Homo sapiens: one gene and its partners. The protein of the gene in region 3 purifies or fractionates together with the protein of the main gene of each other region. This does not show direct contact. Each region holds a gene or a part of one and is shown on either strand. Other genes may lie near its edges.

What was found.
Region 1: the proteins of SERPINC1 (region 3) and TUBB1 purify together in Homo sapiens (affinity purification with mass spectrometry; 3 studies listed by BioGRID and IntAct, with this or other methods). This does not show direct contact.
Region 2: the proteins of SERPINC1 (region 3) and CUL2 purify together in Homo sapiens (affinity purification with western blotting; one study listed by BioGRID). This does not show direct contact.
Region 4: the proteins of SERPINC1 (region 3) and SPSB4 purify together in Homo sapiens (co-immunoprecipitation; one large-scale study listed by IntAct). This does not show direct contact.
Region 5: the proteins of SERPINC1 (region 3) and TEX15 purify together in Homo sapiens (affinity purification with mass spectrometry, with the first as the bait; 3 studies listed by BioGRID). This does not show direct contact.
Region 6: the proteins of SERPINC1 (region 3) and BTD purify together in Homo sapiens (affinity purification with mass spectrometry; 3 studies listed by BioGRID and IntAct, with this or other methods). This does not show direct contact.
Region 7: the proteins of SERPINC1 (region 3) and RNF146 purify together in Homo sapiens (co-immunoprecipitation; one large-scale study listed by IntAct). This does not show direct contact.

What each region holds. Positions count from the first base shown.
Region 1 is NC_000020.11:59,021,980-59,025,001, forward strand, and holds part of TUBB1 (tubulin beta-1 chain), read left to right. Parts: intron 1-865; coding exon 866-974; intron 975-1,510; coding exon 1,511-1,621; intron 1,622-1,725; coding exon 1,726-2,804; 3' UTR 2,805-3,022. UniProt on the Homo sapiens protein: Tubulin is the major constituent of microtubules, a cylinder consisting of laterally associated linear protofilaments composed of alpha- and beta-tubulin heterodimers.
Region 2 is NC_000010.11:35,010,234-35,014,392, forward strand, and holds part of CUL2 (cullin-2), read right to left. Parts: intron 3,568-4,159; coding exon 3,466-3,567; intron 1,732-3,465; coding exon 1,615-1,731; intron 210-1,614; coding exon 78-209; 3' UTR 1-77.
Region 3 is NC_000001.11:173,914,528-173,919,454, forward strand, and holds the start of SERPINC1 (antithrombin-III isoform 1 precursor), read right to left. Parts: upstream 2,801-4,927; 5' UTR 2,733-2,800; coding exon 2,692-2,732; intron 2,414-2,691; exon of another isoform or gene 1,978-2,413; coding exon of another isoform or gene 1,880-1,977; intron 660-1,879; exon of another isoform or gene 491-659; intron 393-490; coding exon 26-392; intron 1-25. UniProt on the Homo sapiens protein: Most important serine protease inhibitor in plasma that regulates the blood coagulation cascade. AT-III inhibits thrombin, matriptase-3/TMPRSS7, as well as factors IXa, Xa and XIa. Its inhibitory activity is greatly enhanced in the presence of heparin.
Region 4 is NC_000003.12:141,057,355-141,061,513, reverse strand, and holds part of SPSB4 (SPRY domain-containing SOCS box protein 4), read right to left. Parts: intron 1-4,159. UniProt on the Homo sapiens protein: Substrate recognition component of a SCF-like ECS (Elongin BC-CUL2/5-SOCS-box protein) E3 ubiquitin-protein ligase complex which mediates the ubiquitination and subsequent proteasomal degradation of target proteins.
Region 5 is NC_000008.11:30,909,848-30,914,511, forward strand, and holds the start of TEX15 (testis-expressed protein 15), read right to left. Parts: upstream 3,162-4,664; 5' UTR 3,032-3,161; intron 1-3,031.
Region 6 is NC_000003.12:15,649,738-15,653,896, reverse strand, and holds the end of BTD (biotinidase isoform 1 precursor), read right to left. Parts: 3' UTR 183-4,159; downstream 1-182. UniProt on the Homo sapiens protein: Catalytic release of biotin from biocytin, the product of biotin-dependent carboxylases degradation.
Region 7 is NC_000006.12:127,279,933-127,284,091, reverse strand, and holds part of RNF146 (E3 ubiquitin-protein ligase RNF146), read right to left. Parts: intron 3,862-4,159; 5' UTR 3,754-3,861; coding exon 3,752-3,753; intron 3,577-3,751; exon of another isoform or gene 1-3,576. UniProt on the Homo sapiens protein: E3 ubiquitin-protein ligase that specifically binds poly-ADP-ribosylated (PARsylated) proteins and mediates their ubiquitination and subsequent degradation. May regulate many important biological processes, such as cell survival and DNA damage response.

The DNA of each region.
Region 1 (3,022 bases), on a different chromosome or scaffold from region 3:
AGTGAAACTCTGTCTCAAAATAAATAAATAAACAAACAAACAAACAAACATAAAAAAATAAAAAAAAGAAAGAAAGGCCGGGTGCTGTGGCTCATGCCTGTAATTCCAGTACTTTGGAAGGCCAAGGAGGGTGGATCACAAGGTCAAGAGATAGAGACCATCCTGGCCAACATGGTGAAACCCCGTGTCTACTAAAAATATAAAAATTAGTTGGGCGTGGTGGTGCGTGCCTGTAGTCCCAGCTACTCAGGAGGCTGAGGCAGGAGAATCGCTTGAACCCAGGAGGCGGAGGTTGCAGTGAGCCGAGATCACGCCACTGCACAGATAAGACTCCATCAAAAAAAAAAAAAAAAAAGGCGCTAATTACTTAAAATCATGCACAGAGGTCCAAGTTATGGGCTGTTTGGAAAAGTTCATGAAAAGAAATCCCCAAAGTGAAATGAGTTATTACTGTGAAATCAGATAAGAATTCAGTTTATTTTCCTTTAATGGAATCTACACTTTACTAGCTTGGAGCATTATAAGGAGAAATTAGAGCTATATTGACATTAAATTCTAAAACAACAGCTTTAATGTATATAATGGCATGAATTTAATAGGAGGAAAATCCAATTTAGTACTTTGTGTTTGACATTTTATTTAAGGAGTTCAGGTGGGGAGAAAATGCAATCTTCATATTACTTCACATTGCTTAGTAGAGGCAAAAAGCGAATGATGCCATGGTTATTTATGAAAAGGCCCTAAAAGAATGTCTTGGGGAGGGTCAGGCAACCAGAGGGAAACAGGCTTGGGAATGCTAACTTTCTCTGTGGTTAACACAGCCTTTTTCGGGGTCCGTTTACTCTGACCTTCCTCCTGCTTTCAGTTCTGGGAGATGATTGGTGAGGAACACGGGATCGACTTGGCTGGGAGCGACCGCGGGGCCTCGGCCTTGCAGCTGGAGAGAATCAGCGTGTACTACAACGAAGCCTACGGTAGGACTGGCGGGGCTCTGGGAGCAGTGGTCCCGCAACTGGGAACACAAGCAGAGGAAGGGCAGAGGCCCAGGAGATGGAAATGTCAAAGCAGTGATGTCTATGCTCAGGGAGGCGACAGGCAGGGCAGCAGGATCCTAGAGTGGTGGGTCCCCAAGCCCTGGTCAAGACGCAGGAATGGGGAAGGAGCTGCTGGATATGGCACACACCTTAACACAAGCAGGTTAAGTACTCACTTTCCTTTGTGGTTTCACAAATGAAACCAGGATCATTTCCAATATGAAGGAAGAGAATCTCTGTCACTGGCAATATCACAGAGCAGACTGATGGAGATTGTTTCTGGGTATTCTATAGATTTGTGGGATTGTTGTTGGGGTAAAAAATATGATGTTAGATACTCAAATCTCGACCTACCAAGGGCCCCTTTCTAGAATATCCATGATTTTTTTTGGACCAGTATCACAAAGTTCTATTTTGATAAAACATTAACTTTTAGAAAAACAAGTAGGCTGACTTTTTCCTATTTTTCTACACAGGTAGGAAATATGTGCCCCGAGCAGTCTTGGTGGACCTAGAACCTGGGACGATGGACAGCATTCGATCTAGCAAATTAGGAGCTCTCTTTCAACCCGACAGTTTTGTCCATGGTATGTTTTTCCAGAAGGTTCCACCAGGAGGAGGGGGGGATGCTTTACTGGTGCCCTTCTCTTTTCACCTTTCTTCCCCTGCTGGTTTCTCTTTTTGGCCACAGGTAACTCTGGGGCTGGCAACAACTGGGCCAAAGGCCACTACACGGAGGGAGCCGAGCTGATCGAGAATGTCCTAGAGGTGGTGAGGCACGAGAGTGAGAGCTGTGACTGCCTGCAGGGCTTCCAGATCGTCCACTCCCTGGGCGGGGGCACAGGCTCCGGGATGGGCACTCTGCTCATGAACAAGATTAGAGAGGAGTACCCGGACCGGATCATGAATTCCTTCAGCGTCATGCCTTCTCCCAAGGTGTCGGACACTGTGGTGGAGCCCTACAACGCGGTTCTGTCTATCCACCAGCTGATTGAGAATGCAGATGCCTGTTTCTGCATTGACAATGAGGCCCTCTATGACATCTGCTTCCGTACCCTGAAGCTGACGACACCCACCTATGGGGATCTCAACCACCTAGTGTCCTTGACCATGAGCGGCATAACCACCTCCCTCCGGTTCCCGGGTCAGCTCAACGCAGACCTGCGCAAGCTGGCGGTGAACATGGTCCCCTTCCCCCGCCTGCACTTCTTTATGCCCGGCTTTGCCCCACTCACGGCCCAGGGCAGCCAGCAGTACCGAGCCCTCTCCGTGGCCGAGCTCACCCAGCAGATGTTCGATGCCCGCAATACCATGGCTGCCTGTGACCTCCGCCGTGGCCGCTACCTCACAGTGGCCTGCATTTTCCGGGGCAAGATGTCCACCAAGGAAGTGGACCAGCAACTGCTCTCCGTGCAGACCAGGAACAGCAGCTGCTTTGTGGAGTGGATTCCCAACAACGTCAAGGTGGCTGTCTGCGACATCCCGCCCCGGGGGCTGAGCATGGCCGCCACCTTCATTGGCAACAACACGGCCATCCAAGAGATCTTTAATAGGGTCTCTGAGCATTTCTCAGCCATGTTCAAAAGGAAAGCTTTTGTGCACTGGTACACCAGCGAAGGGATGGACATAAACGAATTTGGGGAAGCTGAAAATAACATCCATGATTTGGTATCCGAGTACCAACAATTTCAAGATGCCAAAGCAGTTCTAGAGGAAGATGAAGAGGTCACGGAGGAGGCAGAAATGGAGCCAGAAGATAAGGGACATTAACTGTGAGAGAAGCTGTGCCGCGGAGTCGCTTACAGAACAGTTTCTCATTAGATGAGTGTTTCTCCTGCAGCACTCCAAAACCCACTCTGCACTGCAGCACAGTGAATGATATGCACTCACCATTAGCTTCGACACAGGGACTGAGGGAGACAGGTGGGGAGCAGCTGACAGGCATTAGGGTCTTTGCTGACATCTACTAACCTTGAAGAGTTTGATGT
Region 2 (4,159 bases), on a different chromosome or scaffold from region 3:
GTCCTGCTTTTTCCCACAGGAACACACCAAATGGTGATGGCAATGATCTTCTCACACCACGCTGGAGGAGAGCGACATCACGCGACGTAGCTGTATTCATCTGCCGACGCCTGGCTGCGTTCTATGTATTGTTTGTCTATCAGAACTTCAATACACTTCTTAATCATGCTGATACTGGGATTAAACCTAGCTCTTGACTGGCTAATCACCTGTGGAAGAGATGTGGAAGTCAAACTACTGCCAGTTCTTCAGCTATTAAGTAATGACTTTTAACCAATCAGTTTAAAGTGCCTCAAATGTACTGAGGTTTCAACAAATGGGCCAAATTAAGTATGAAAATAGGAACTACAATGTGGAAAATGGATACAGCAAAATCTAATAATGATACATAATTAAGTGAAACAATAAACTAATTAACCTAAGTACTCACACACAACCCCAAGCTTCTATTTAACTCAACTCTCAGCTCTTAGTTCAAACACTTTCTCAAGAAAGTTTTCCCCAGCAGCCCCTAGGCCAGGATATTTAAATACATTCTCATAGTACTGTATACGTTTCCTTCAGTGCATGCTAATGTAATTTTACATTTATTTGCATATCATTTCAATAGTGTATTTCTTCCCCCATTAAACTGTGAACTCCAAAAAAGCCTGCCATATCTTCAGCTGCTCTGTGCTATATCCCAGGGACCAGCCCAGCTGTCTATCACATGGTAGGCTCAGATAGTTATGGAATGAATGAATATCTGATGGGTCAATTTCCTTCAATAACTGGACAGAAGACTCAATGAATCAGCAAGTTTTAGACCTCTAAAATAAAGCCAAAGCAAATATGAATTTATTATTATCATTTGAGATAGCATCTCACTGTGTCACACAGGCTCAATCCCTGGGCTCAAGCAATCCTCCCGCCTCAGCCTCCCAAGTAGTTGGTACTACAAGTGTGCCGCCACAACTGGCTAATTTTTTAATTTTTTAATTTTTTTTTTTTTTTTTTTTTAGGTGAGATGGGGTCTCCCTGTGTTGCCCAGGCTGGTCTGAAACTCCTGGACTCAAGTGATCCTCCTGTCTTGGCCTAACAAGACATTCAGATTACAGGTGTCCACTGGGCATGGTGGCTCACACCTGTAACCCCAGCACTTTTGGAGGCCGAGGCAGGTGGATCACCTGAGGTCAGGAGTTCGAGACCAGCCTGGCCAACATGGTGAAACCCTGTCTCTACGAAAAATACAAAAATTAGCCAAGTATGGTGGTGCACGCCTGTATTCCCAACTACTCGGGAGGCTGAGGCAGGAGACTCACTTGAACCTGGGAGGCAGAGGTTGCAGTGAGCCAAGATCACGCCACTGTACTCCAGCCTGGGCGACAGAGCAAGACTCTGTCTCAACAACAACAACAAAAAGGATTACAGGCATGAGCCACTGTGCCCAGCCTGCAAATCTGAATTTAATACTGAAATTGTGAGTGAGTACGATTCTGATTAAGTATGAAACATTTCTTTATGCTATCTGAGGATCAGGTTATTTCTGTATCCTCTTTAAGAAGAAAGAGACTGAATCTGTACAATGACAATGCCCTCTACCCTAAGAAGCCCTGAGGACTGCCCTCCTTTTACCTCTTGAATAAGGGCATTGTGCCGAAGCACTTTTCGTGCTTTCATGATACGAACTATAGCAGCTTGGAGATACATTTTCCGGTCCTCATCAACTGCACTTCTAGTCTGCTCCATTTCCTGTTTTACAGAAGAAAAGAAAAAAGACCCAACAAGACATTAAGTCACTGAACTTGTTTTCAATTCATTTTATCAGTGAGTGCAAATACTTTTTTTTTTTTTTTTTTGAGACAGGGTTTCACTCTGTCGTCCTGGCTGGAGTTCAGTGACTCGCTCTCAGCTCACCGCAACCTCCATCTCCTGGGTTCATGTGATTCTCATGCCTCAGACTCCTGAGCAGCTGGGATTACAGGTATGCACCACAATATTGAGCAAATTATATAGTTATGTTGTGCCAATATCACATAACCACTGCTAAAACATCTACAATTTCTAGGGTTAAAGTTGAAAGATTAGAAAAAAATTTACATTATTGTAAACTGTACTGTTAAGGTAAAGAGGCAATAAAGGAGGACACAGCAATAATTTGCAAGATCATTTTCTTATCAGTGATTACAGAATCTTTCATGACGCTTTTAGATGGAGTTGTGTCAACTGCAGTAATTAGCTCCAAATGCATACTGGATCAGGCTTCAAAGGGAAGAGCTGTGAAGTGGCATTTTATGTGGCTCAAGCAGAGAAGCCAGGAGAGGGGGCCTATCTCCACGGAGCTCAAGAAACACAGAAGCAAGGCATAGAAGCAGACCATGCCACATTAAGAGGATCTCCTCACAGCGTTTCAAAGACAAAATACAATCTATATATTGCAAATTATTATTTATTAGCCTGGAGGAAAATGGAATCTTGACCATTTTAGGTTTCAAAGTAAATGGCAGTTAATATTTGTCTCCCCCCATCGGGAATTAAGTTTCTGGAGAGGGTCTAACATCTTATATTATCTTCACATCCTGCATCAGCCCAAGGACTGCACACCGGAGGCAATCAGGAAGCATAAGTGATAGAAACAGTCTATCCCAGACCAAAGCAACAATCACTGCTGAGTTAAAATAATGAAGAGCAGAAGTCCCCTCCTCACACTGGCCTGTCAGTACCTCACTCCACACCCACTAGATCACAATCTGCATTTGAACAAGATGCCCAGGTGGCTCATTTGCATATGAAAGTTTAAGAAGCATTTTCTACTGACAAATTTTCTTTGAAAGAAATGAGCTGTAGGCCAGGCGCGGTGGTTCACACCTGTAATCCCAGCACTTTGGCAGGCTGAGGCGGGCGGATCACGATGTCAGGAGATCGAGACCACCCTGGCTAACACAGTGAAACCCCGTCTATACTAAAAGTACAAAAAACAAAATTAGCCAGGCATAGTGGTGGGCGCCTGTAGTCCCAGCTACTCAGGAGGCTGAGGCAGGAGAATGGCGTGAACCCGGGAGGCAGAGCTTGCAGTGAGCCGAGATCACACCACTGCACTCCAGCCTGGGCGAGAGAGCAAGACTCCGTCTCAAAAAAAAAAAAAAAAATGAACTGGAGAACTTTCCCTTATTTTACAAATGAAAAATATGAAATTTTATTACTTCTCAATGTGGGAATTTTCGGAGAGAATGCATAGTTACACATTCTAATGGTTTAAGAGCAAATACAACAAAACCATACCCTTTTCCTTAGAAAAAACTAAAATACAAGTAGAGATTTCTGTTTGACTGTAAGGTTAATAAATGCCAACAACAAACCAGAAAAGACATATCCCATTATTAATTTTGCTGTGCAAAGTTTTGCACAATCTCAATGTAAACACTTGTAAAGTCCAATGCTTAAATGTTTCCCCCTCAAAAAAAACTTGACATTAAAAGCACTTACTTGTGGTGTGTCTTTCTGCATTGATGTAGTAATTTTAAATTTTGTTCTTTTACTGCTAAAGTTCATATTTAATGAAAACGAAGATTCTGCATCAATATCTTCCTACATTTAAAAATAAAACATTTATATTTATAAAAACCAAAATCTTTAAATAAGAGTTTGCTGCAAGCAATTCTGCTAAATTAATGACCAAGCAAAAAAGCCTCCACTCTCATAACTTTTATATTATAGATTACCAAATTTAAGAGAAAAATAATTCTTTTGTTCAAACAAACAGGAAAAAACCCAATTATTTTCTACTTTTACATCTGCCAGAATCTTAAGCAGTTTATGTTTGGGAATAAGCTATTTTCTGGTCCTACTATTCTATATACACTACTTTTTGATAAAATAAGAGTCAAGCTCATTGCCTAGAGTTTGACATTTTAATTTTTATGAAACACCAAAGTGCGTAACTTTTCCATCACCCCATTTTGAAAAAGCAACCACATTTTTTTTTACAAATGCCGCAGTAACAAAATACCCACTGTAAATGGCCTGATGACAAGAGAAAGCTGTGCCTCCAGTAGCACACAGCATCAATTTGCTGTGACCTGGGGTGATGGTGAAAACATTTATTTCAATCCATGTTTTATTCACTCTTCAAGAAGCAAGTGGCCTTTGCTCAGGGGAAAACTGTTTAGGCAATTTTTAG
Region 3 (4,927 bases):
CTGGGCAGAAGACCTTTGGTCGTACCTCCATCAGTTGCTGGAGGGTGTCATTACAGGCACCCAGCTTGGTCATAGCAAAAGCCGTGGAGATACTCAGGGGTGACAGGAAAATGTTATCATTGTCATTCTTGGAATCTGCCAGGTGCTGATAGAAAGTGGTAGCAAAGCGGGAATTGGCCTTGGACAGTTCCCAGACACGCCGGTTGGTGGCCTCCGGGATCTTCTGTTCTGAGCCCTCATCCTCAGTTGCCTTCTTCTCCGGGGAGCGGTAAATGCACATGGGATTCATGGGAATGTCCCGCGGCTTGGCTGTGCAGATGTCCACAGGGCTCCCGTGACAGGTCACGCAGTCCCAGAAGCCAATGAGCAGCAAGGACAAAAGATAAACCTTCCTGCAAGGAGACAAAATGCCAAGTTAAGCTAGGCTGCAACCCCTAGCCCCACTGCCCACCACAGGGTTGCCCCAGTAAAGCAGAGGATTCCAGCCCACCTGGTGTGGCCAAGAGAAAGGCTAAATCCTTTGAACCAAGTACAGGGGCCCGGGACAGGTTCAGTCCTAGACTTCTTGCCAGGGGACAGTTCAGTTGCCTGGACGTGGTCATGTTGGAATTAGAATCATCTGATGGTTATTTGGAGTATTATGTGCTCAATTCCCCACGCTGGGAGAAAAAAGAATGAGAAGCTTCCTGTTTGTGACATGGAATGTGCATGCCTAAAAAATCGGCTTTAGTGCCCAGTGAAGAGTCAGGGTGGTAGGGGGAGCCATCTACAGAAACTGTTTGGGGAAGGACTCTGATAGATGCAGCAGAGAGATTTCAGCAACACAAGAGAAGTAAGAAGAAATGGATGGAGCAAAGGCAATATCTGGCCGGGTGCGGTGGCTCACGCCTGTAATCCCAGCACTTTGGGAGGCTGAGGCATGCAGATCACTTGAGGTTGGGTGTTCGAGATCAGCCTGGACAACATGGTGAAACCCTGTCTCTACTAAAAATACAAAAATTAGCTGGGTGTGGTGGCGCACACCTGTAGTCCCAAGCTACTAGGGAGGCTGAGGCAGAAGAATCACTTGAACCCAGGAGGCGAAGGTTGCAGTGAGCTGAGATTGTGCCACTGCACTCCAACCTGGGTGACAAAGTGAGACTGTGTCTCAAAACAGCAACAACAAACAAACAAACAAACAAAAACAATGGCAATATCTGTGTGCTGAAGATTCCTACATCTCTAGCTCCAGCCCTAACCCTTCCACTGAGCTCCAGACTGACTATTTGCTGGACAGTTCCACCAGGAACTCCTACAAGTTCTTCAGGGAAACAGGACCAAACTGAACTGGTAATTAATTCTCCCCCACAGGCCTGCTCCTGTGAGTGGGCTCAGTGAATCCCGTACAGAAACCTGAGAATCACCCTGGATTCCTCCCTCTCTCCTCCTCATTTAGTCAAACCCCAGAGTCAATCAGTTCACCCCAGAGTCAATCAGTTCTGTTTTTTTACTCTTTCACCAGTTATTGCCACTGCTTTAGTTCAGGCTCTCATCCCTTTTTATTGCCTGGAATTTTTAATAGTCGCCAACATGGATTCAATGAAGGTAAATGAAGCTAATTTCACATTTTAAAAAAATGAGGTAGTTGGGACACTCGATGAAGCAAATCAAGAGATAAAGTCTCTTGTAATATTTTTTGTAGATAAGACAGGGTGGGGCAGGGGCTGCCTCCAGCTGGTTTATGGTTCCTGCGTGTACACAAGGGGGTCTGTGTGTGGGTACTGGATCTTCCCATCTTCTCCTGGGAGAGAAAGACAGGCACCCAGTGCAGATTCACGGACGTGGTCCGTTGGGCAAGCCTGGGGCTGGCTGGAAGCTGGGGCAGCTGAGGGGGACTTGCCTTCTTGCGTGGTCTGAGTCCAGTTCTGCAGCCCTTTCAAGAACAGAGGTGCAAAGCCGGAGAGAAGCAGCGGCACCAAGGGAGATGTGGAAGGCAGGCTGAAGAAGCAGAGAGAGAGAGGAGAGGACCCTGCCATTCATCTTCCCATCTCCACTGCCTTCGGTTGCCCACTCTGTCCTTCAACTACATTTGGAAATGCAATTTGAGGCTGAGAGGACCCTGGGAGGGCTATGAAGCACAAATTAAAACCAAGACAGTTGTGCCACCACCCCGTTTCTAGCCTCCTGTGACAACTCAGATGAAGAAGGGAGTGTGTGTGGCATTGAGGGAGGGACAACTCTCATTGTGAGAAAAGGAAGCAGTTTTGGCCCTTTAGTCAAAGGTCACTGGGATTTGGGTGGGGGTGGAGTGGGGTGGATCTGAGTGGAAGAAAGAGCAAAAAGGGAGTGAGGAGGTCCTCATGGGTAGCATTTGCTCTCTTCCCGGATGGATGGCAGGCCCTGGGGATTCCCCTTGGAGCGTCCCCTGGATCCCGTGAGTGCTGACTTCCTGCACAGCATCTTTACACCAGGGATGACATCCCCCTTGTTTCTTAGGCTAGGGACCCAAGGGGTAGCTTAGGAAAGGCCTTACCCCAAGAGGTGGGGTGGGAGGGAGAGCACTTGAAATGACGTCTTCCAAACAGGTCTTTGACTGTAACTACCAGGGAGAGGGCCTGGTCTTCTCAAAGGTGTTGGAGGTCATTCCTGTGAGTCCTTTGGAGGTCACAAAACCCAGTAGGGGCAGGCAAGGGGAAAGCTCACCCCTCTTACCTTTTTCCAGAGGTTACAGTTCCTATCACATTGGAATACATGGCCGCTAATCTTCCACAGGGCTGGGCAAGTGGAGATAGTGTGATCTGAGGCAATCCGCCTGAAAACTGGTTCTTTCCTCTAAATCTCGCAGAGGTTCCAGAGGACAGGGTGGGGCAGAGAGCTGGTCAGGAGGGGGAACTGAGGTCAAAGGCTGATGACCAGTTCCCAGGGTTAAGCAAAGTGTAGAGCCCAGTGTTGTTTAATTAGTAGAGAAGTTTTAAAGTTCAATCAGGCCCAGGGAAAGCCTGAGCCACCTCTCTTGCCCACACTCCCTCACTCTTCTCCTCAGCTTTATAGAAAAGGAAAAGGAGAGTATGTTCATACCCTCAAACTTGGTTAGGAAACTAACCAAGGAAACAAACTTGGTTCATACCCACCCTCTCTCATAGTTTTCTTTATGGAGAGAGGGAGAGAGAGAGAGAAATATCTAATTAGAGAAGGCAAAGAGGGACAAGCTGCTACCTTCAGGCATCTGAGTGCCAAGGTGTCCCTGGCACAGACAAGGAAAACACAATGGTTACACCTGTGGCCCACAGAGAGACCCATTCCCCAGCAGCCCTGAAGTGGTGGGACAGGGAGAGAAGAGCAGGGCCTCGGGGTGCATGCCAAGCGCGTTTCTAAGGGGTGTGAGCAGCTGGGAAATACTTAGCAAAACTCTACTGGGGGATCAGGAGACAGAATGCGGGGCAGGTGAAAAACCCACGTACAACTGCTGAAATAAAAACAAACTAAATTATATTTATGTGTATCGTTATTTTTATTAGTTATTGGGGAGATTGGGTAAATTCAAACTAGTGGAGATAAAGGGCAGGTTTGTTTACATTTCCCTCTTCTGAAATAGCCAAAAGCACCATCACAAGGACTGCAGCCACCAAGTTCACAGGGCGCATGTGCCTCCTGCTGTGTGATCAAGGACTCCTTGTAGTTGTTGTTGCAGTCATAGGCATTTTCGAGAGCTCTTCGTTCATGAGAGAGGACATCTCTCCTGAACTGAAGCTGTGTCTAAGTTCTTGGCTGATTCAGACCCTGGATCCTTTGAAGCCCTCCATGTGCAGTGTGAACAGTAGCCGAGAACTGTCCCAAAGGGCCCCAGAATGCCCAGAGGCTCATCTGTCACCCTAGATTAAAGACTATTGAAAAGTCTCCTGTTCAACCACTTGAGTTCAACAAATACACGAGTGCTGCTTGTGCCAGCAGACACTGTTCTTGGGGCTGGGATTCCATTCGGGGGAGACATACAGCAATCACATAAAGAATCAGTATTTTAGGCCAAGCGTGGTGGCTCACACCTGTAATCCCAGCACTTTGGTAGGCTGAGGCAGGTGGATCACCTGAGGTCAGGAGTTCGAGACCGGCCTAGCCAACCTGGTGAAACCCCATCTCTACTAAAAATACAAAAAATAGCTGGGCATGGTGGTGGGCACCTGTAATTCCAGCTACTCAGGAGGCTGAGGCAGGAGAATCACTTGACCCCAGGAGGCAGAGGTTGCAGTGAGCCGAGATCGTGCTATTGCACTCCAGCCTGGGTGACAGAGCAAGACTCCATCTCAAAAAAAAAAAATCAGTATTTAAAAAATAAATATGTAACGTGCCAGTCAGATGTTAATAAGGTCCATAGAGAAAACTATAGCAGGGCAAGGATATAGGAAGCAGTGGGAGGAAGTGGGGAGGGCACCATCTGAGAACACTTGGTAGGAAAGGCCTCCCTTAGGAATCATTGTTAGGAAACCAGAATGAAATGATGGAGGGGGCCATATGAATATCTTTAGGAAGAGCTGTCCAAAGAGAAATCAGAAATACAAAGACCTTGAGGTTTCAGGAACATGCTGTTGAGACCTATTGTTCCAGCTTATAGGAGTTATGAGGTTTGTGTCTTGCCAAGAAGGTCCTTGGGGGAGGGCAGATGAGGGGCCCTGCAAAAATATAGGTGATTTGGTGAACATCGCTGGAAAAGATTAGGATGCAGATACTACCAGGTCAAGGAATTAAGAACTATAACATCAGGGTTTGTGTTTAATTTGTTCATCCAGGCTGGATGCAGTGGCTCACATCTGTAATCCTAGCACTTTGGAAGGCCAAGGCTTGAGGCCAGGAGTTCAAGACCAACTGTGAGACCCCACACACGGTGAGACCCCCATCTCCAGAAAATAATAATAATAAGCTGGGCATGGTGGCATGAGCCTGTAGTCCCAGC
Region 4 (4,159 bases), on a different chromosome or scaffold from region 3:
ATGGAGTGAGCATATGGGACCTCTCTGTACTATCTGTTTAGTTTTTCTTTAAATCTAAAACTATTCTGAAGAAATAAAGCTCATTAATTAGAAAAGGTTAAATAAATGTCTAAATTTTAGAGAATACAAAAAAAGGACAAAAACTAGAATTCACCTCTTTCTCCTATCTCATTAACCAGATATAAACATTGTCAGCTTTTGGAGGAATTTTGCTTTATTCTCTCTTTTTTTTTGGTCTATAAATTATAATGAATTTTCTTTTTAAAAATTGGTATAATGGGCCTTTATTTAGATTATTTCACCTAAAAATTATGTAATTTGCATTTTCACATATCACTAAATATACTTTAAATGCATAAGTAACTAAATTTTTAAAAACACATAAAACATAAACCATATAATCATTTAATGGGGGAGAAGACAGAAATATGTAAAACAAGAAATGAAAATGGGAAATAACAAAACGGTGTAGCTGAAAGCACTTGTAAAAGAAGTTAGACTTGTTTTAACATAAGAAAAAATTTGCAACACAAATTACCAACAAATATATGTCAAACTCCTACAAATGAATACAAGTACAAAATATGAAAAGATATCAACAGTTTACACAAAAACAAATGGTTCCTTTGAAAAGATACTCAATGTATACTGAAAAAGAAATGAGTTAGAACTCCATTGAAATGCCATTTTTGTCTATCAGCTTATTAAAGGTCAAAAAAATGGATAACGCATGCTTGGAGAATGTGTGGAACAGAAGACAGACTCATACATTGCTAAAGTGGATATAAACTGGTTTAGCCTCGGCAAATGGCAAATTAACACCATCTTTCAGAATTGCAAATATACAGACCCTTTGACCTAGCAATTCTACTTCCAGCATTTATTCAGATATGTTCTCAAATGCACAAAACTACCTATGTACACAGCACATGCATACATACTGCATACATACGCAGCACTCTTTGCAATAGCAGCCCGGGCTCAGAGAGGTTGCATAACTTGCATAACCTGGGGTCACACAGCCAGGAAGTGGCAGGACTGGGATCAACCCCAGAGTTACCATATGACAAGCCTGTGCTCTTACTTCTTCCTCCATGTTGTTTAGAATAATGCCCTCTCCACAGCAATGACTGTAACCAGCTCTGTGTGGCCCACACAGAAAATTTCTAAGGGAAACTGCTTTATCCTTGCACACAACCATGCCAACTGTGGAGTTGCTGTTGCTGAAAAGACACTTAAACATGTTTGAAAGCAACAGCCAAACAGCAGCCCCAGGGAAGACCTCTTACTAGTACTTGGCTTGGCCCATACTGGGTCATTGAGGGCCCAGTGCTCTCCTTTGCAATCATAGTCTCAAAGTCTCTGTCCCTACTAGAGGCAGGCAGAGATCCTGAAGAGTGCTCACACTGTGGTGTGACAAGGTGGGCAAGTAAATAGACAGCCCCTTTGCTGCTCCCCCAGTACAGGGCGCACAGCAGAGTGCTCATGTCCATGAATGATAAGCCGTTAAGGGAAACTAGCAGCTGGGCAATCTAATGAAGGACAGGAGACCTAGATGTGAATCCCCACCTGTCTGTTGGACCCTAGGCCAGAACTTAATCTCTCTGAGACTGGTTGGAAGTGCTGCTAACTATGTGCTAACCTCACCTGCTTTTGCAAGTATCAGAGCAGACACCTGTAAAGTCTGGCACATCACAGGGCTTCCAGTAAGTGGTGAGTGCTCTTTTAAATTGTGGATGTGTTCCAACATTGCCATTTCACCACTTGAATGTGCCTGGCTATGAACTGATTGTGTCCTCCCCAAATTCACATGTTGAAGCCTAATATAGGTTGGATATTTGTCCCTGCTCAAATCTCATGTTGAGTTGTAATCCTCAGTGCTGGAGGTGAGGCCTGGTGGGAGCTGTCTGGGTCATGGGGGTGAGTCTGTCATGGCTTGGTGCTGTCTTAGGGATAGTGACTGAGTTCTGGAGAGATATCTGCTCATTTAAAAGTGTGTGACACCTCCCCACCCCCGCCTCTTGCTCTTGTTTTCACCATGTGACATGCCTTCTCCTCCTTCACCTTCTGCCATGACTGTAAGCTTCCTGAGGCCTCTCTAGAAGCCAAGCAGATGCCAGCACCGTGCTTCCTGTAAAGCCTGCAGAACCGTGAGCCAACTAAACTTCTTTTCATTATAAATTACTCAGTCTTAGGTATTTCTTTATAGCAATGCAAAAATGGCCTAACACAAAGCCCCAGTGTGATAGTATTTGGAGGTGGAGCCTTTGAGAGATAATTAGTCCATGAGGGTGAGCTCCACCTCCTCTAGGAAGCCTGCCCTGATCCAGTAGGCCTCCTGGGGCCTGCCCTGTACCTCTGTCCACCCTTGAGCCAGCCAGGGGGACATCTTTCAGGCCTTACTGATCTGCTTTTTTCTACCTTGAGGGCATTCCTCTGATGGCAGGAAACTTTCACCAGCACTTCTGTGCCCCCAGCCACTGCACTACTCCCTCCATGCAAGACACAAGCCTGGTACTTTGAACATGGGGCAGAACACACATATGGACTGTGGAGAGGTTGTGCTGGGCTTCAGGGAGGGCTCATGCTCTGCTGTTTTTCAGAGGATGAAGCAGAGAAAGGGCCAGGGCTAAAGTCAGGATATGGGGACATGAAGCCCAGTAATGCCACTATCATAGTTGGACTCTCACTCCTGAGCAGCTGACTCTTGGCTGTATCCAGTCTACTCCTTTATTAGCTACTGCTTTGCATCCTTCCCTGCTTCCAACCCTCATTTATTCGTTCAAAAAATGCTTAGTGAACACAGTGCCAGGCACTGTGCAGCTGAGAGCAAGGGACACAGCAGTGGCCAAGTCGGGCTCATCCCTGCCTTCTCTCTCCAGCCAGAGGGAGTGGGCACTTAGCACATTTCTCCTCTCCTCATCTCCACTACAGCATGCAGCACTGGGCCAGGCACATGGGACATACAACAGGATCCATCTTCCTGACAGGAATACCATCATCTCTCAACCCAGTAAGCAGCCAGCATCCTGAAGAACGCCAAAGGATGCCTCCGTCACTTTTCCCCAAAACCAAACTTAATTTCCTACGTCATGCTTGGATGGGGATGCTTAATGACATTATCCAGAAGGATCTGCTCTGGGGCTTCAATCATGGCTGAGCAAGAAAACAAAAACTCTAATTTGCTAATTGCCTTTCCCAGGACCCTAGCAGATGTTCCTACCCGACAGGGAAATGAGGAGACATGAAGTGGCAATGCCACACTGTTTAAGGAACCTCATTAGTTTGAAAAATATGATGCACAGTCTTCAGAGGCCTGGGACCCAAAATCACAGCCACAGAGGCCTGTCTAGCTGAGCTCAATAGGCACGGGGTCTGCAAGAAGACATGACTGCTGTGGGGATTGGTAGTGACTGCGTGAAATGCCCTTCTCTCTGTGTGGCCTCTGGCTTTGGACTTGCTGGAGCCAGAGGTGGGGGCAAGTCTCCTTCTTTCATCTAGCCAGCAGTAATGATGCCTGCCCTGGGGATCTCAGGCTGCTGAAAAGCATAAGACTCAACCACTTTCCCTTAGGGAGACAGCCTACACCAAAGGGGTCAGACTCCACGAGAGATCTGAATAATGACAAAGACTGTAAAAAGAAATCCAGTTAGATACCACTGGAATTCCTTTATAGACTGCATATTACTTTCAAATATATACTACTGCACTTGTAAAAGTACACAGTTGATCTAATCACGCTCCTGCTCAAAATCCTCGACAGGTTCTCTGAGGCTTTCAGGATATTAGATATTAGTGCCTCTGGGGAGCTCCCCAGCCCCCTGTGCTCTCAGAGCCCTTGTACTTGTGCCCACCACAGCTCTTATCACAAGGGGACATGATGTCTCTTTGGCTGCCTCCCTCCCATCGGACTGGGGCAACTTGGGAGCAGGGGCCGGGTGTCCCTCATCAGAGTCCCCATGGACCTGGCTTAGAGAAAGTGGTGGGTGAACGTCTATGGAATGCACGAGCACGAACAAATGAAGAAAAGCAATACACTGCCTTAGAAAGAACCAACACTTAAGAATGAACTGGGAATGCAGAGCACTGTGAGCTCAGACTATTTATTTCATGTCTTTATTTTTCAATTTTTGACTCTGTGCAAAGGTACCAATGATAG
Region 5 (4,664 bases), on a different chromosome or scaffold from region 3:
TTTGATATCACATTTAATAGATTCAGAGGAAAACTAATCCCAACTGTGCAACACATTCAGGGGCTGGAGATTTAATGAGATTCCATTAGACCTAACAGGATAACATGTAGGCACTTCAAATCCCCTCTATCATCCTTCATGAAGCCAAGCTATTTTGAAATAAATGAGAAATAGGAACATAGCAAAAGCAGACCAAAGCAGTACATTTACCAAAAATTAAAACTGCCAATTTTCCAAAATTTTTGGGTACTGTGAAAATCATGATTGTTTTCTCTAACTTGAAGAAATTTTGTAATCCAGTACAGTATATCATCCTTCGGTACAATAAAAAAAAAAAAACTTTAAAGTGCTCAAGTACACTAGTAGGTGTGCTGGGAGAAAAAGTGACCTTCGGATCTCCTGAAATTGAGTAAAAGCAATATAATTATACTTCACTGATTTTGTAAAACATTTTTTAACATACTAAAGCCATATACTAAAGCGGAAATTATCACTAGCTGCTAGGATTAAAATTTCAAAAAGTGCCAGTGGAAGTTCTTATGCTTTCTTCCCACTGGCCAATAAGACTCCTACGGGTAATTTCTTATGTTTGCCTAGTTCCATGAATTCTTTTACAGAATTCATAGAGTCTGACTCTGTTGCCCAGGACTGCAATGATGTGATCACGGTTTCCTGCAGCCTTGACCACCCGGGCTCAAGCAATCTTCCCATTTTAGCATCCCAAATAGCTGGGGACCAAAGGCTTGCACCACCACGCCTGGCCTTTTTTTTTTTTTTTTTTTTTTTGGTAGAGACGGGGACTATGTTGCCCCAGGCTGGTCTTGAACTCCTGGCCTCAAGCAATCTCCCACCTTGGCCTCCCAAAGTCCTAGGATTACATGGCATTATTTGGCACTCATCCAAATAATTTATTTAAAAAAGAAAACATACATGGGTTTTGATGCTTAAGCACTCTCCCTCAAATTTTGACATCTTTATGATTAGGTAGGGTTCAGATTTTAAAATATCTTTGCAATAAGGTAAAGAAAGATCTATGTTTTGTTTTTTAATTAAAGGCCTTTAAGAAAGTGGGCAATAACAAAGCATTAAACGTATCTCTAAATACTGATTTCACTCCTCCAGTTCCCTTAACTTCAACTGTTAAAACGAACTCTCCCTTTCAAGCAGCGATGATATATTTTGGATGAACCTTAAAATCTTTTAAAAATATTCAATAAATTTAACCATTTTCTCAATGTGAACTCAACGACATTTTAATTAAAGCTTGTACCACTTTATTTTTATTTTTTTGAGACAGAGTCTCGCTCTGTCGCCCGGGCTGGAGTGCAGTGGTGCAATCTCAGCTCACTGCAGCCTCAAACTCCCAGACTCAAGCGATTCTCCTGCCTCAGCCTCCCGAATAGTTGAGATTACAGGCGCGTGGCAACACATCAGCTAATTTTCGTATTTTTTGTATTATTACTACTACTATTATTATTATTTTTTGTAGAGACGGGATTTCCCCATGTTGCCCAGGCTGGTTTCGAACTCCTGGGCTCATGCGATCCGCCCGCCTTGGCCTCCCAAAATGCTAGGACTACAGGCGTTGAGCCACAGCGCTCGCCAAAGCTTGTATCACTTCTCTTCCTTCTCCACCAACACACATAGTCGTCAAAAAGGAAATTCAAAAATAAAAAAAGCGAATAATGGTATCACTTCTACTTCATACTTTGAAACAGCCCCATATTCACCCATCACCCCCAAAAGCAATCAGTGCACTTAGGGCGTTGGGGTGCTTCACACTGCACTTAGAGCTCACCATTTTTAAACTTGAAGGGAACCGTGGTATCTTCAAAGTCTCCGAGTTGCCAGCGACCTCAGCCTCTCCACTTTCTCGAACATCATCCCTGGGCACTGTCTCCCGACACAGCCAGCGCGGTGGCCATGCGCCTCAAACCGAGCATTCCAAACGCGGAAACTCAACCCCGAGCGCGGAGAGGATGGAAACTGCCTGAAAGGATCTGTGCAGGGCTGGGCTTGGGACGCGGCTCACACGAAACTGAGGCAGGAGTCTCTTCCTGCACCCGCACCACGCCGGGACCCGAGGGGTTTCACTCCCTTCACTGAGCCGAGCCAGGAAGCCAAGAGCCACCAGGGCGAAGCAGCCCTGCAAAACCTCCACTCAGCCTTACAACAGCCACAGCGCCGGGACACGCGGCACCGCATCCCGGGCGCGCCAGTCCTCCTGCAGTCGGGGGACGCTCCCCTCAGGCGCCCGCGTCGGAGCCCAGCTACCCCCGCGCCGCCCTCACCTACCGAGGCTCCCCCGCGTCCACCGGCTCCTGCAGCGAGACAGCCGGCGCAGGCGGGCATGGTCCGAGCGCGGGCTCTGCAGGGGAGAATGAGGCGCGCGGACTGCCAGTCACCCGGGCGGCGTTCCCCGCCCTAGCGCTCCAGGGTCGCGAGTCCCACAGGAGTCCCGAGTTGCGGTCCCGGGGCGGCGGGGCTCCCGCCCCCTCCCCGCCCCCGCGGATATCCCCACGCACCACGAAGATCCCCACGCGCCCTGCGCAACGCGGCTGCTCCGCGCTGCCTTCTGCTGACTACAAACTGCGCCTCCAGGGAGCCAGGGCGAGGCGGAGGCCACCACCAAGTTGTGGCGCTCTCTCCTCTCGCTGCCTCAGAGCAGCGAGTTTCTCCTCAGCTGCAAACAAGGACGCAGGGCCAGCTCCGTGGGGCTCAGCGGGGGCAGAGGGAGAGCGAAAGCGCGGGAACCCGCGCATCTGAGGAAAGCTAAACATTTCACCTGTAGAGTCGGCTGCCCTGGCCCTCGGAGGCCCACCTTTGGCCCCAGAGTCCCTGAATCAATGATAATTAACATTTTTAAAAAATTTATTATTTTTAAAAATAAATTTAATCGGGAAGCTCCGAGCCAGAAGAGTAGCGTCTGAGACTCCCCATAATTAACATTCTTCACTCCTTAATTTTAATTTACCTCACACCAAACTAGCTGCTAACCCTCCTCTCCTCATCTGCCACATTCCCCACAAACCTTGAGCTGTCTTCTTTGCTCAGTCAGTTCCTCAGACTCAATCTTAGCACGGTACAGACCTTCGCCCACTGCCTTCCCTGGAAGCCTCAGGAACACAGCAGCACCCCCCAGCGAGGTGCGCACAGTGAGCAGGCAGCTCGGAAAGCAGCGGCGCTTGCGCACTGCGCCGGGGGCGGAGCCAGAGGCCCTGCACGTGGAAGCTCGAAGCCCGTAGGTGGGGCCCGCGCAGGAACGGACTCCTGAGAGACTTTCCATGTCCTGAAGCAAACTGTGTGTTCAGTGCCTACTCCGTGTACACGGAGTGGGCCTTCAACAAAACGATCGTTTTGTCATGGCTTTCTAATTTAATTCAAAAGGAGTTAGAAGATCGGGGAGGACTTTATGTTGCTCAGCTAATGGCCAAATCCCTTAGCTAAGGCTTCAGCTTGGAGCTAACAAGTACATCCAAGTTTCAGGGATCTAAAGCATGAAGATTTTTACCAGACTCATTCTGTCGGGTGCGGTGGTCGGTGATCTCAGCACTTTGGGAGACCAAGGTGCGTTCAGGAGTTTGAGACCAGCCTGGGCAACATAGTGAGACCTCCTCTGCCAAAAACAAAAAAAATCCTTGCACTCAGAAAATTAATTCTACTTCATAGCGCGGCTTATGAAAGCCTGATTCAGAGGCTATATAGATTACAGAATCGAAGTCTTCCAGTCCAGTCACTCAGATTTAGTTTTACAATTGCAGGCCTGAGAGTCACTTCATCCTTCAGTGGGTGAATCCTTTAGGGGCGAAGACGCTGAAGACAGGCAGCTTAAAAGATGCAGTATTCGGCCGGGCGCGGTGGCTCATGCCTGTAATCCCAGCACTCTGAAAGGCCGAGACGGGCGGATCACCTGAGGTGTTCCAGACCAGCCTGGCCAACATGGCGAATCCCAGTCTCTACTAAAAAATGCAAAAATTAGCCAGGCGTGGTGGCGTGCGCCTGTAGTCCCAGCTACTTGAAAGGCTGAGGCGGGAGAATTGCTTGAATCCGGGAGGCGGAGGTTGCAGTGAGCCAAGCTCACGCCACTGCACTCCAGCCTGGGCAAAGGAGTGAGATTCTGTCTGTCTGTCTGTCTGTCTGTCTGTCTCTCTCTCTCACACACACACACACACACACACACACACAAAGATGCACTATTCCATTTTCCAATAATCACTTTCTGTAAGGCAAGTTTTAAGTGTATTTTACAACTGGATTGAAAGAGGAGCTTCAGGGATCTGTGAATACCGTAAATCTGAGAATTAATTTTTTTTTTTTTTTTTTTTTTACGGAATCTAGCTCTGTTGCCAGGCTGGAGTGCATTGGCGCGATCTCGGCTCACTGCAACTTCCGCCTCCCAGCTTCAAGCGATTTTCCTGCCTCAGCCTCCTGAGTAGCTAGGATTACAGCCAGGCGCCGCCATGCCCAGCTAATTTTTGTATTTTTAGTAGAGACGGGGTTTTACCATGTTGGCCAGGATGAGTCTCGATCTCCTGACCTCGTGATCCGCTCGCCTCGGCCTGCCAAAGTGCTGGGATTACAGGCGTGAGCCACTGCGCCCGGCCTAAAATGTTTCTTTCACTATAAGTTCAATTTAGTGGAAAGACGTTCTTTAACTATCATCA
Region 6 (4,159 bases), on a different chromosome or scaffold from region 3:
AAAACAGTAACAGTCTTATGTGACTTTGCATCCTCCACAATTTCTAGCACAGTATTTTACACGGAACTAATGCTTAACTTTCACACGTGATTTTTTGAGAGTTGCAAGACATCCATAGTCGGATCAACAATTTTTAAAGAATTAGAACACCCCCAAAGTTATACCTTATCTTACAAATCACATTATACATAATTACATCTTTCTTTAATTATCAAAGAATCACTTTAGAACATTAGAGTTCTTCCAGATCACTGAATAGGAATTTCAACCATTACATTCCAGTACTTAGAGAAAATGTAAATATAATTGCCTTTAGTCAAACAAAACAAAAATAATATATTTGGATGATGAACAAGTCACCCAGAAAGGGCTGAAAATTAGCATGACAGGGAGAGAAAACATTTCTGGGTTGGCGACGTTGAAACACTGGCTGTGCATTAGTCCAGGTGTGGGAATTCCAGCCTCGTCCTATGTTGCTGGGATTCTGTTTAGTCTCAGGCAAGGACTTGCCTTCCAGGCCTTAGTTCCTTCTTCTGTAAAATGGACACACTTGCCTGTTTCAGAGGACTGAGGTGATGATTAAGACCCGTGCACCTGCTTTGGTATGCACCGCATTAGACAGTGGGCTCACACTTGATTAGGATCGGAATCACCTGGAGGACTTGTTAAACACAGATTGATGGGCCCTACTCCCAGAGAGTCCGATTAAGTTGATCTGGGGTGGAGCCCAAGAATTTGCATTTCCAACAATTTCCCAGGTGCTACTGGTGCTGCTGCCTGGAGCCCACCTTTCGAGAGCCCCTGGTCTGCACCATACCAGGCTGTTGGATAACTCTGTCTGGGGTGGATTAGACAAAATTCTGCGGGCAGGAGGTTTTCCTGGCCACTGTCAGAATACCTCCTCTAGAACTTCCGATTTCAAAGCAAACAAGTTTGTTCAGCATGGACCCTTCTTTTTGTTGTTCTCCCTCTATCTGAGAACATCTCCCTGTTGCATTTTGCTATTCAAAACCAGAAGAAAAGAGAGTAGATGTAGATGATTTCTGGCTTTGTGTAACCCAACAAATAATAGCCACTAATAGCACTTGATATATATATAGTGGGAGAGATACCTGTATAGGAGCAGTCAGGATAGCTGGGAGATTGAGTGTTGGATGAATTTTAACTTGGATGTGGGAGATTAAGGTGCTGGTAGCAAGACTATTGTATTAGTTTTCTATTGCTGTATAATAAATTACCTCAAAACCTAGGATTTTAAAACAACACACATTTATATTTTATAGTTTCTGAGACTTAGGAAATCAAGAGTGACTTTGTGGGGTGGTTCCGGCTCAGGGTCTCTCATGAGGTTGCAGTCGTTTCCCAGGGCAGTGGTCATCTGGAAGCTTGACTGCAGCTGGAGGACCCACTTCCAACATGGCTCGCTCATGCAGCTAGCTGGTGGCTGTTCCTTGCCAAATGGGTCTGTCCATAGGGATCCTTGGGAGATGGCAACTGGCTTTCCCCAGAGGGAGGGACCCAAGATAGCAAGTGAGCAACCAAGATAGAAGCTGCAGTATCTTTTTTTTTTGGAGACGGAGTGTCGCTCTGTTGCCCAGACTGGAGTGCAGTGGTGCTATCTCAGCTCATTGTAACCTCCGCCTCCCGGGTTCAAGCGATTCTTCTGCCTCAGCCTCCCGACTAGCTGGGACTACAGGCGTGTGCCACCATGCCGGCTAATTTTTGTATTTTCAATAGAGACAGGGTTTCACCATATTGGCCAGACTGGTCTTGAACTCCTAACCTTGTGATCCGCCAGGCTTGGCCTCCCAAAGTGCTGGGATTACAGGCGTAAGCCACCGTGCCCGGTCTGCAGTACCTTTTATAACCCAATTTCAGAAGTAACATGCCATCGCATCTGCCATATTTTATTGGTTACACAAAACGACCCCAGAAAAATGTGGGAAGTGTTGTACAACGGATACCAGCAGGTGGGGAGCACTGGGGGCTAATCTTGAGACTAGCTACCAAGGTTATTTTCATTAAGAAGCTTCTCTCTCCCCTAACTCCTCTATTTCTTCTCAAATGAACTGGTCCATGAGCTTGCAGAATGTTCTGGAAGAACCATGCCAGGGCTGCATTTATCTTCCCTGCATACTCTACCCCTCTCCATTCTGTTCTGTGACCTCCCCAACACTGACTTCTAGATAGCACCAACCAGATTCTCTTATCCTCTGCTTTCCTGTTGGGTCCAGCCAGTGGGAGGCCGCAGCAGGAGTCAGGAGCGGAGAAGAGAGAGGAGACAGGATATGGATCGCCTGGCTCTCTGCCTGTCACACCGCTACGGTCTGGCTGTCTCTCTCACAGCCCCTGCTCCCGCCAGCCTGCTCTCTCCATAAGCTTCCCTCTCCTGCTTCTGGTAACCATTTCAGCCCTTCACACCTTCAGGCCTGGGGTGCTCATAGCTCCTGCTGTCGCTGGCCGCTGGGTAGTGCATTATCCTTTCTGGGTTCCCCTACATCCTGCCCACAGCTGTGTAAATCACTCTGTTCTTAAGATCTCCTCAATCAAGATTTGCAGTCTCCCTCCTGCTATGGCCCTTACGGCAGCAATACCTGACTGGCATCACAGTGAAATTTCTGCTCAGAGGAAAAAAGCCTCGTGGACATTTACTGTTTTGGCCCAACTATATCCCACTCCCCTTCCCCTGGTAACGCTGTCCCAGTGTTCCCCTGGGAAACAGTCCCCACCCCTCAATCCATGAATTTCAGGTCAGAGCTAAGCCTATCATCCCTCACCCTAATAGTGGCCATGTGACTCAGTGCTGGCTGATCAGAATATCACAGCCCTGGCCGGGTACGGTGGCTCACGCCTGTAATCCCAGCACTTTGGGAGGCTGAGGCAGGCAGATCATGAGGTCAGGAGATCGAGGCCATCCTGGCTAACATGGTGAAACCCTGTCTCTATAAAAATACAAAAAATTAGCTGGGCGTGGTGGCACGTGCCTGTAGTCCCAGCTACTCGGAAGGCTGAGGCAGGAGAATCGCTTGAACTCGGGAGGCAGAGCTTGCAGTGAGCCGAGATCATGCCATTGCACTCCTGCCCGGGCGACAGAGCAAGACTCCATCTCAAAAAAACAAAAGAATATCACAGCTCTCTGGCCGATCATTGATTCAGGATGGGCACGTGCCCTAAGCAAGAGCCCAGGTTGTTCATCTCTGAGACTTTAATTAGGGACTGTGTAAAAAGAGGAGCTTCTTCTCTAGAGCTGCTGAGAGGGGCAGATGAAGCCTAGAAGTCATGGCCATTGTTGCAACTACACGAGAGTCTGTCTGTGGGAGAAAATGATAAAGAAGAGTGCAGAGTAGAGTGTGATACTGTGTCCAGAGACACCATTTGAGCCCCTAGATTCAGCAATGGCTGAAGAGAATTTATTCTTAGACTCCCCAGTTACGAGTTAATATATTCTTTTTTTTTTTTGCTCAAACAAAAAGAAAAAGATGAAGAGAATGAGAAGGAAAATGAGAAGAAAAGTTATCTACAAAAAATTATATATGCATGATGCCTAGAGTTCATATATTGGTAATTTCATTTTTAACGGTGCAGCTGTTATTCAGATTTTTGTTTTACTTCAGTACTGAACACAAAAATAAAAAAACTTTCCAAACGGAAATAATGTTTCGTTGTGTTTTTTCTCAGCCTGTCTGAGAAACATTCTAAACATTCTTTGTGACTACCTATTCATTCATTCATTCATTCAGCAGTCAGCAAGCATAGAGCAGATTTTGTAAGCCAAGACAGTGCCATGCTGAACGCTGCAGAGACAAAAGATGAATAGGACACTGGCTCTGGTCTTAGAGGGTGGGTCTCCGTGGAGTCACGATAAAGATGCAAATCCAAGACTCAGCACATATTTGCATGTGGGCAATTCATTAATATCTCTCTGTCAGTTTTCCCCATCTGTAAAATAGCTGTAGCAAACCTTCTTTAGGGCTCATGGCAGTTAAGGGAGACCATTTATGTGCATCCAGCACAGAGCTGTCACTCACTACTAGGTGGCTACTCTAGGCATGGCTCATGTTCCGGCAGAGGGAACTCAGATAAATAGTTCAATGAGAAAGGGCTCTGTGAACTGGGAATGGGAAACACCAGTTCAAAAAGTGGAAGAGTCACAAGCTGT
Region 7 (4,159 bases), on a different chromosome or scaffold from region 3:
AAAAAAGTTTCCAACCTAAAAACATTATCCTCCACCCTACTTAATATGATTAATATTTTGCATGACTCTTACTCTTGCATTTATGAATAAACCAAAACACATAATTTCAAAACTAAGAAAGCAATTACAATCATCCCAGGAGAAGGCATGAATTATAATAACATAATTGGAAAGGCAAAACAATCCTGTTTGTGCAGGTATTTTGGTTCCATCATCAGAATGAAGTGAAGTTGGACAAAGTTAATCTGCAAACAATGGACACCAGACAGCTAAATGGTCATTATTTCATCTGAAGCACTCTTAACTATCAATTTGCCATAGCAATTTATAAATTCTGATTCTGTTTAGCCCATCAAGTATACTGTTAGTCTATCACCAACTAACAAATGGGCAGAAAAACTTAGTGATATTTCTTATTTAATTCTGAATGAGGCACATGCAATAAGTAAGATAGAGATAAAATGTGTAACAAGATAGACACAAAGTAACCCCAAACTGCTAGTCTACCTATAAGACATACTTCAAGGCTTTTTAAAAAACCATTTTAATCTACCCTACACAGTCTCTGTTTTGCAGTTCCAATGATCTTAAAATAGGTGGGAGACTAAATGTATGCAGATGATCATACCAATATGTAAATAAGAAAGCTTTTCCCCTCCCTTTGTGTAGAGCAAGTATTAATGCTAATCAAAAGAGGTATTCCCTATCTCATAAATGTCTCAGAAAATTCTAATTTTGAAAAAGGGAATTTATTTCCAGTTTACTAAACTAAGAATTTAATACACAGAAATTTGGAGTGACGTTAGTCCAATTCTATTAATAAGTATAATACATCATTTACTTTCAAAGACGTTTTTACTGAATTCTTCATGTGATATTCCAACTTTTAAGTATAAATCCCCTTCTTCCAATAGATAAACCATGTGAAATATTTCTGCCAGACTAATAAGAGTCTATTAATACTAAGTCTTCTTCTCAAGAAGACAAAATATAGAGGGGTATGGGCAGAGTTAGTGGAAATCTCCAAGAACTCAGATTTCCTTGAAACTTCTTGGACAACTAGTCAAATGAAAGGCAAAATTATTATAAGCAAAAAAGATCTTTAGTATGTGTAGTATTCAAGAAATTTTTAGCTTGCAATAAAAACTCCAAATATTAAAAATCAGATTTTTAAAGTCTGAATTTAGAATCCAATTACAGACACACAAAAAGGGAACAATCCTACATATAATTTCAAGGGGCTTAAGGATTTCTATGAAGCTGGTCCACATATGAACCACTAATGAGACAAGAGGAGTTCACTGAAAGGTTTTACGTCAGGAAATAACAGCCAGTTTAGTAGCTTCCAGACCATTTGAACAGCAGGTTGGAGGAAAGTTTGGTAATGCAGGAGGAGGTATGGCGAAAGGGAAACTAGAATATCCAGGTAGTAATGCAAGTATAAGATAATTAGAGGGAGGTTGCTGATGTAAGTTTCCAACAATAGAATAGAAGAATGCTAAGGAAAAAGAAATGAAAGCATTTGATTACTGATGGATGGTGACACATTCACCAAAATTCAGAATTTGAGGAGAGTTCTGTCTCAGACATAATGACTTTATTAAGGTCTCCAGGTGGAGATAGGTAGATGACAGCTGAATTTACTAGTTTGATACTCCAAGAATAAATCTGAGCTGAAAAAAGTCTGGTGACTCACCAACACATACATGGTCCTTGGAGCCATGAAAATGAGTAAATGCCCAAATTAAACCTGTAGAGAGAGCAGTCAAAAGGGCCAACCACAGAATCTTGAATTACTCCAATATCTGTGAGGTAAAATAGCCAGGAAGGGGTGTAAGGAATGGTCAGAGAAGAACAGGAAATAAAGATAGACCACCACCACAAAAGCCAACAAGGGAGACATTCGCAAAAAAGAATAATCAAGCAAGTTACTCTAAGTGACAAAAATTTCACCATACAATTCACTTTTGTGTGGTGCAAAAGTTGTGAACCCCACACACTTAATAGCTATTTTGATTTCCTAAACACCATCAATCCCAGTAAACTTTTACTCGGCCAAGACATCTTTCTTTCCCTATTCCCCAGAGACTATCATAAAACTTCTCCCTCCTAGTTTATCGATATACTAACACCTGTATCACTGAGAAATTAGGTAAGTCAAAAATAAATCCTGAAAATCTATCTTTACCTTTACTGTCTTATCATTATTCCTCCTGGCTCAATATGGGGTACTGCTACTTGTTTACAAAGCTAACCCCTCAACATCTAGTAAGTACTGTCCCCTAACTCCTCCAAGACTGATCAATATACTCTGTCCCTAAGTATCAAAATCAATTAAGATTGATTGTATGTTAAATAAATGTAAAATCTGGTAATATAGTAAGTACTAAATAAATGTTCACTCCCTGCACTTATTTTGAAGTCTCTTTCTCCTACCCTGCCTTCCCACATATTACTGTTCCCTGACTCCTCTAAAATGTGTTGATGATTAGGCAGCTGTTTCCCTCCTCATTCCCTTGGCTTGAAAAATATTTCCTAATTTTCTTTGACTGTTAAAATTCTACTCATTCTTTGAAGGCAAGGTGAAACTTATTCTGTTCATTCTGAACCCTTCAGATGAAATTAATCTCTTCCTCTGTTCAGTTTCAATAGCATCTGATTGTTACCTTAATATGGCATCTATTCCACTGTTTGTTAATTACATACATGTCTCATTTACTGGATCACAGTAAGTTCCTTGATGACCAGCACCTAGACTATCTGACCTATTAAGATTTTAAAAAATGTATACAGATAGATAAATGGACAGGATTAAATAAAATATATATTTTTAAAGACAAATGCTTATTAGTATCATTTTTCAATTATCAAATTTTCAATACTGAATAAAAATAATATGGTCATACTTTTAATAATAAATTAATTATTGTTAATACATATCATTACATGTAACCAGTATCATACTGGAAGAGTAGAAAGCAAGAGTTTTATGTCAAACTGGGAAAATGTGAAATAGCATCTACCAAGGTCACTCTTGCTCTAATAAGAAAAACACTGTAATTAAAAGTCAATAAAATATTCACTACATTTTTCATGAATGACATCAAGTTGCATAGGGCTTATATGAATTTAGAAAACAGAAATATATTCATAGTGAAAAATGTTTCATCAATACGGTGAAGTTAAATATGGACAAATCCAAGGTAGTGTGTAACACTTTAAAGCATATCATGCAAAGATAAATGATGAAAGCACAACTAGTAAAACTGGGGATCAGAGTGAAGTGATATGAATAAAATGCAGTGATGTATTATTACATTAAAAAAATCAATTATGTAGAAATTCCTTTAATTTAGTGAAACAAGTTTTTAGTAACTAGAGTTTTTATAACCTAGTAGTCTGTCTTATTTACAAAAGCTAGTACTACTTGCCTAGCTTAGTTATTTAAGAAAATTATTATGTAAAAAGAAGGTAGAACCCAGAGGACCTGGAGATCTATTTCAGCATTCTTTGAGCAAACTCCTGTGTCTTCAGTTTTTCTTATAGAGACTTTTCCTTTTGAGGAGACTTGGAAATCTACATTAACGATAACTTAATGTAAATAAATTGTTAATAAAGCACCTATAAGTCAAAAGAAAATGCTCATTTAATATAATTAAAACTACATATGACAGATACTCAATTTACCACACGTTAAACCAATCCATTTAATTTACTGCAGCACTGAAAAAAACCATGATGCTACACTTACATTTCTATTACAGATCCCACAGATGCCTGCCACAAAAATAAAGCATTTTCTTCACCAGCAGTCAGCCAGCTTACAGTATTTTCTCTTCCACTGCTGGTTCATTCTTTGTGCTGCAAAAGAAAAAAAGAGTAATTAAGATCAAGAGAATCAGTTAATTATGTATAATCCTTTCAAAAAATTCAGTGGAAAACTTTATCTTAAAAGTGGGAAAAATTAAAGACAAGATGCATGCTTTTACCACTGCTATTCAACATGACTGTAAGTTCTAGCAGAGCAAATTAGGGAAAAGAGATAAAGGCATACAGACGGGTAAGGAGGAAGTAAAACTATGTCTATTCTCTCTAGATAGAAGATCTCATAGAATCCCCAAGAAAGCTAATAAACAAATTCAGCAAAGTTGCAGGTTAC